Homo sapiens: one gene and its partner. The protein of the gene in region 2 interacts with the protein of the main gene of each other region in a pairwise test. Each region holds a gene or a part of one and is shown on either strand. Other genes may lie near its edges.

What was found. The genes of interacting proteins can lie anywhere in the genome.
Region 1: the proteins of DTNB (region 2) and PPFIA1 interact in binary tests that used the Homo sapiens proteins (3 or more experiments, as listed by UniProt).

What each region holds. Positions count from the first base shown.
Region 1 is NC_000011.10:70,375,190-70,378,842, forward strand, and holds part of PPFIA1 (liprin-alpha-1), read left to right. Parts: intron 1-1,342; coding exon 1,343-1,411; intron 1,412-2,840; coding exon 2,841-3,006; coding exon of another isoform or gene 3,007-3,014; exon of another isoform or gene 3,015-3,282; intron 3,283-3,653. UniProt on the Homo sapiens protein: May regulate the disassembly of focal adhesions. May localize receptor-like tyrosine phosphatases type 2A at specific sites on the plasma membrane, possibly regulating their interaction with the extracellular environment and their association with substrates.
Region 2 is NC_000002.12:25,621,497-25,625,149, reverse strand, and holds part of DTNB (dystrobrevin beta), read left to right. Parts: intron 1-3,653.

The sequences.
Region 1 (3,653 bases), on a different chromosome or scaffold from region 2:
AAAAAAAAAAAAACTTCAGACAACTAGTTTTTGGTTTTTTTTTTTTTTTTTGGTCTATTGGCTTTCCCTTTTCTGTTGGAAGCATGAGAGTCCTGCAATAAACCAGATAAGGACGATCTTTCATTCCAGCCCATGTGCCTGATCAGAAGAGTGACATATATTTAGTTCTTACATGGAAAGAGAAGTGTTTTTAGGTGTGCCACATGAAGATTTTATTAATTTTGTTTTTATGGGTAATTGCCTTATGCCATTCTTTTTGACTCATGGGCTCATTTGAAAAACAGGGAACTTTTATTCCTCTACAGAACATTGAATATGCCAGGCAAGGTGGCTCATGCCCACAATCCCAACACTTTGGGAGGCCCAGGTAGGCAGATTGCTTGAGTCCAGGAGTTCGAGACCAGCCTGGCCATCATGGTGAAGCTCTGTCTCTACAAAAAAATACAAAAAAATTAGCCAGGTGTGGTGGCACATGCCTGTAGTCCCAGCTACTTGGGAGGCCAAGGCAGGGAGATTGCTTGGCCCGGGAAGTGGAGGTTGTGATGAGCTCTGATTGCGCCACTGCACTCCAGCCTGAGTGACAGAGTGAGACCCCCATCCCAAAGAAAAAGGAAAAAAAAAAAAAAAAATTGAATATCTTTGGCCAATACCCCTGACCAACCCACACAACACACCCTTGTTAATATGACTCCAAGGATCATGGATCCCTTTCTGCAAAAGCCCATCCATTGACTCCACATTAGATGCCCTGATTTAAAATATTATTATGGTTCAATGTAGTCATAGCAGTGAGGGAGTTGTTTTTTTGTTTGTTTTGAGATGGAGTTTCGCTCTTGTTGCCCAGGCTGGAGTGCAATGGTGCAATCTTGGCTCACTGCACCCTCTGTCTCCCAGGTTCAAGTGATTTTCCTGCCTCATCCTCCCAAGTAGCTGAGATTACCGGCACACGCCACCGTGCCCGGCTTATTTTTGTATTTTTAGTATAGATGGGATTTCACCATGTTGGCCAAGCTGGTCTCAAACTCCTGATCTCAAGTGATCTGCCTGTCTCGGCCTCCCAAAGTACTGGGATTACAGGCATGAGCCACCACACCCAGGCCCTAATTTTTGTATTTTTAGTAGAGACGGGGTTTTACCATGTTGCCCAGGCTGGTCTTGAACTCCTGACCTCAGGTGGTCTGTCCGCCTTGGCGTCCGAAAGTGTTGGAATTACAGGCGTGAGCCACCAGACCCAGCCAGCAGTGAGGGAGTTTAAGTCTTGGTTTAAAAAACAATTACGATGCTAACACCCTTCAAATTAGATTTGATGAAAGTTTTATTTGTTTTTCTTTGGTTATTTCAGGCTCGTGCTGTCTTGGAAAGAGAATTTAACAACCTTTTGGTCATGGGGACTGATAGAAGGTTTGATGAAGTAAGTTTTTGGCCTAATGTTCTTTAAATGTCTGAAATGTGTGTAAATGTTTAAATGTGTGTGAAATGTAAGCTGTTATTATTATTATACTTGGGACATCATGTAGCTAGGCAGTCTCTCTGGATGTTAGAAGTCAGGCTTTGCTCTTATACATTTATTCACAAATGAGCCTTTAAAAACTAATACCTGGGCCGGGCACGGCGGCTCGCACCTGTAATCCCAGCACTTTCGGAGGCTGAGGCGGGCGGATCACCAGAGGTCAGGAGTTTAAGACCAGCCCGGCCAACATGGTGAAACCCCATCTCTACTAAAAAACACAAAAATTAGCCGGGCGTTGTGGTAGGTGCCTATAATCGCAGCTACTTGGGAGGCTGAGGCTGGAGAATCGCTTAAACCTGGGAGGTGGAGGTTGCAGTGAGCTGAGATCGCACCACTGCCCTCCAGCCTGGGCGACAGAGAGAAACTCCATCTCAAAAAGAAACCCCCTCCCCGCAAAAAAAAAACCCACAAAAGTAATACCTTCAAGAAGGTAGTTTTGTTTTTATTTTTGCTATTTAATTTTTGACATCCCTCAAAAATGGTTTTCACATCATAAAACATTGGTTGCAGCTTAGGAACAGAGTCTGTAAGTTGGGTTTTGGGGACCAGTAGTTATCCTACCCCAGTCCAGAGTGTACCCCCATACTCCTGTGCATGGGTGGGGTGGCATGTTTCAGAAGTATATTAAAAACACAAAATGTTAATTTCCCCTTAAAACCATGACTCATTTGTTCCACACGATTAGGAGTCTCTTAATTGGACCTTAAGAAAAGTTGAGTTTGACAGAGAGAATAGAAGACCACCTCTAAAGATGAAGCACTTGTTGCTATATCCTGGCATAAGATAAAATTGTTTCTAGTTAAAAATTGTTTGTAGAGCTGCGTGTGGTAGGGGCACACCTGTAGTTCCAGCTACTTAGGAGGCTGCGGTGGGAGGATGGCTTGAGCCCAGGAGTTTGAGGTTACAGTGAGCTATAATCACACCACTGCATTCCAGCTCGGGCAACAGATCTAGACTCTGTCTGTAAAAACATAAATAAAAATGAAAAATAAACTATTTTTAAGATAAATAAAAACGTATTACGTTGCAAGAAAGTGATTCCTGCAAGGTGTAAGAAGTAGAACATGATGCTGTGGAGAAGGAGCACATCCTCATGGCCCAGCACCGACCTCATTTCGCCAGCTGAGGCCCAGCCGGACCATCACCATGCCCCGTTTCACGCTGAAGTTCCAGGTTGGGCAATATATTGTGTGGTCATCAAGAAGGGATTAAATACATGTGGACAAGAATACATTCTCGAGATCAGCAGTCATTTTAAAGGACATGTAACTTTACATCTCTGACCTTTATTTTTTAAATGAATCTTGTTTTTTGTTCCTTAATTTACCAGGATGATGATAAAAGCTTTAGGAGAGCACCTTCATGGAGAAAAAAGTTTAGACCAAAGGACATTCGTGGCTTAGCTGCTGGGTCAGCAGAGACTCTCCCTGCAAACTTCCGGGTGACTTCTTCTATGTCTTCCCCCTCTATGCAGCCAAAGAAGATGCAGATGGACGGTATGTGATGGGTCACACTAACCTGTCACTTGTTGGGAGCATGAGCAGCTTTCTGTCTGGAACATTAATAATGATCTAAAACGGCCTATTTAATATGTTACAAGGCACTTGAGTATGGTTGCATGTCCAAATATAAATGTTTTTAAATTAACTCTAACATTTGTTTATAAAAGTTTAACCATAATAATAGAATTTTTAAAACACGCTTGTCTGGTTGAATCTTAGCATATTTTTCCAACTAATAAAGCTCAGTATTCGTCTGTGTTCTCAGAGAGAGACTGAGGCATACTTGTAAATTTGTGTCTGTGACAGGCCGTGCTAGAAAGCTCTTTCAGGAAATAGTAGTGTAGTAGTAGCTTCCAAACCACATAATTTACTGCTCTCCACACCAGAGAAAATAACTGAGTACATTTTTAAGAACACACAGTTTCCAGCTTGTGTGAGCTCTGCCTATGCTTTCTGCCCTCCCTGCTGCTGCTGTTCCGTGCAGTCACATGTCTACCCATTAGAGGGCAGGGAAGGGAGGAAGGTGAACCTCCAAGAAGTCCCCAGTGGAGCGAGGCAGCTATTGACTATACCAGCCAGAGAGAGAGCATCACTGCCATGATTTCACATGCAGTTTGGGATTTTCCCTTAGACGGCCACTT
Region 2 (3,653 bases):
AATTATTTAATCTTCTCTCACCTCCAAATTTATAGTCCCTGTGTTTGGCCAGATGATTTCTGATCATTATAATAAGAGAGTATAAGACCCTACAACAACGGTCAGGAACAAATAGGATCTAAGACTTTTCCTTAAGTATTTTCTTAAGACCTAATTTTTTTTAATACTGAGAGTTCTGAATATGTTATATTTTGATAATTAAAAACATTGAAAAGCACAGAGACCAATATTCACAAAACACCTGGGTGTAGAATCTTAGTGAAAGCCACAAGGAGTTGTGAAAACACTGATAGCTGCATTTTTTTCCTCTCAGTTTCTCCGGTACAATGTTATTGGTAGTCATACAGTCTGGTGCAAAGGTACAACAAAGGTGCTTTAACCAATATAATAACGATATCCAAATTCCCAGCATGAGATAGAGGAGGTCTTCCTTACTCTTCTATAGCTGAGCCAGTTTCACACTTTAAGGTTTGTTACTTAAAAATCCCCTTTCTATTTCCAACCTTTGTGTTAGTCCAGTGTCTTTAGCTGTAAAAAGCCTACCCACATGGCCTTTTCATAACAACATGTGTATAGGCTGACAAACTGAGGGGTCCAGAGGCAGGCCAGCCCCTCATCTTGGTTGCATCAGAGCTCTGGCTTTATTTCTTTGCGCGGCTTTGCCCCCTTCTTGTATCAGCTCCATCCTTAGGCTGACTTCACAAAATCCCTGTGAGCAGCTTCTACTAAATGCCTCCTCTTTGAAGTTGAGGTTAAGGAAGAGTTGGCTTCTTTGAACACCGAGCAGAAGTACCCATCTTTTAGACACCCATGACACAGCCTCAGGAGGTCCTGACAATGTGTGCCCAAGGTGGTCAGAGCACAGCTTGCTTTTATACATTTTAGGAAGACATGAGACATCAATCAGATACGCTTAAGATTTACATTGGTTTGATCTGGAAGGGTGGGACAACTTGAAGAGGGACAGGGAGCTTCCAGGTCATAGGTAGATTTAAACATATTCTGATTGGCAGTTGGTTGAAAGAGTTATGATAAAGAGTTGTGGAGAGCTAGGTTTTATCACACAGATGAAGCCTGCAAATAGTAGGCTCTAGAGAGAATAGACTGTAGATGTTTCTTCTCAGACTTAAGGTCTGTGTTGATGTTAACACTGGAGGGTATCATGAGGCATGTCCATCCCCAGCTTCCCATCATGGCCTTAACCAGTCTTTCTGGTTAAATTTCAGAGTGCCCTGGCCCAGGAGGGAGTCCACTCAGATGGTTGCAGGGGGCCTTTGAATTTTATTTTTGGTTTACACTTACAATCTAATATCTAGATTTCCTGTGGTTCTTTTTGTACTGTTTGTTGTTTCTGGTTTTCATTAATGATGTTTTATTTCCTATTTGCTTTGTTATTTTTTATTATAGGCTGAACATTATATAGCAAAATTATTTTTATTATATACCAAACATTATATTGCAGAATTATTTGCAGGGATAATTTGAGGCCTAGGATGATGTTTTCTTCAAGAAAGGATGTGTGTTTGCTTCTTCCAGGTGCCTGGAGACCTTAACAATCCAGGATCACGTCAATTCAGTTTCTTAATCAGTACATGTGAGGACCTGTTTACTTCTGGACACGATTACCTTTAGGTGAAGCCTTTGGGCTCTGAGCCCAAACTAATAGGAGAGTAGGGTAAGCAGGACCACGTGTCCTGCCAAGGGACCCCTTCTGCCTTGGCAAGTCCAAGCCTCCATGTCTTTCTCCTTGTCCCCAGTACCATCAAAAAGTTACTCTATACTTCAGCAATTTTGCTTCCCCCTCTGGAATCAAATCACTTACATGGAAAAAGTGATTTCATCCATTGCACTCACCTCCCTGGACATCCAGCCTCTCCTGCATTTGGTAACTTCAGTTGTTAGTTCTCAACAATTTATATTCAAGGAGATTTTTTAAAACTTTCCCCATCTTTTCTTTTTTGCTCAGAGGAAGAGTTGATCAGAATCACCTAGGGTGCTATTACCAGAAGCTCATTATTTCTTCAAATATTTCCTCTGTTTTTGTTTTCTCGTTTTCTGATTGTTGGCATTTCTACTTCTTTCCTCTTTATCTATTAGTGTTCCTCACATATGGTTTAATTTCTTTAACTTTGTTTCCTTTTGGAAGAGTTTATTGATCTGCCTTTCTGCTCATTAATTTGTTCTTCCTCTGGAGCCATCCTACTGTTTATTCCATCTGTTATTTCTTTAGCTATTATATTTTCTATATGTAATATATCTGATTTTTCTTTTTTGGGATTTGTGGTTCTTGTTTCGTATTGTCTTTTTAAACATGTTTATTCTTAGTTTTAAATTCTTGGTCCATTTGTTCTAGGACTTATGCTTCCAAACCTGGTGTATGTTGTTCTGTTTTGTTTTGTTTTTCTAAGTAGTTGTATCCCTGTGTCTAAGGACTAGCCAAGGAGTGGATGTTTGCTGAGAATGTGGGCAGAACTTGGACATGTGGGCTAGAGTGTTCACATGCATGCATAGTCCTTTCAAGCATGGGATGTGCTGGAGGTGGGAAGAAAAGGGGATCAGGTTCTTCCCACGTAGGAGTATGGGGTGCCTTACAGTTCTAAATTTGAACATGACATTTCTGGCCATTATAAAGGTATGTTAGTCAAGGTACAAAGATGGAAATAAATACATATATTTATTTATTTTTCTGTCGTCCAGGCTCTAGTGCAGTGGCACAATCTTGGCTCACTGCAACCTCCACCTCCTGGATTCAAGCGATTCTCATGCCTCATCCTCCTATTTGGGACTACAGGCATACGCCACCACGCCTGGCTAATTTTTATATGTTCAGTAGAGACGGGGTTTTGCCATGTTGGCTAGGCTGGTCTCAAACTCCTGGCCTCAAGTGATCCACCCGACTTGGCCTCCCAAAGTGCTGGGATTGAATACAGCCATAAGCCACTGCACCCGGCCAGATTGCTCTTATACTTTATTTCTGACTGTTGAATCTTATTTTTTCCTCTGATATATTTCATCCATTTATGTTTTACAAATGAGTCTGTGGCCTTTACCAAAAGTGTTGGTTCAGAAATAGAATGAAATTTCACCTTAAAAATGGAATAAACTGGTAAAAAAAAAAAATGATGTATCTAATGAAACTAGTTTGGACAAAGTCTGTAAAATACATCTAAATCTTAAAAAATACAAAATACGGTATTGAACACATCATTTAAAGGCCTAGGGTTATTGTTTACCATCTACAATAACACTCAGTAGAAAACATTCTTGCTAATTTGAACAATCGAAAGATTCCTTTGGTGTAAAGATACTTATATAATTTATAATAGAGTTATATGAAAAAATTCCTGTGTAGTTTGCAAATGTGGCTAACAACCATTTAAAAATGTTGGTTTAGGCTGGGTGCAGTGGCTCATGCCTGTAATCCCAGCACTTTGGGAGGCTGAGACAGGCGGATCACCTGAGGTCGGGAGTTCAAGACCAGCCTGACTAACATGGAGAAACCCCATCTCTACTAAAAAAAAAAAAAAAAAAAAAAAAAAATTAGCCAGGCATGGTGGTGGTGCATGCCTGTAATCCTAGGGAGGCTGAGGCAGGAGAATCGCTTGAACCCGGGAGGCGGAAGTTGCGGTGAGCTGAGATCACACCACTGCACT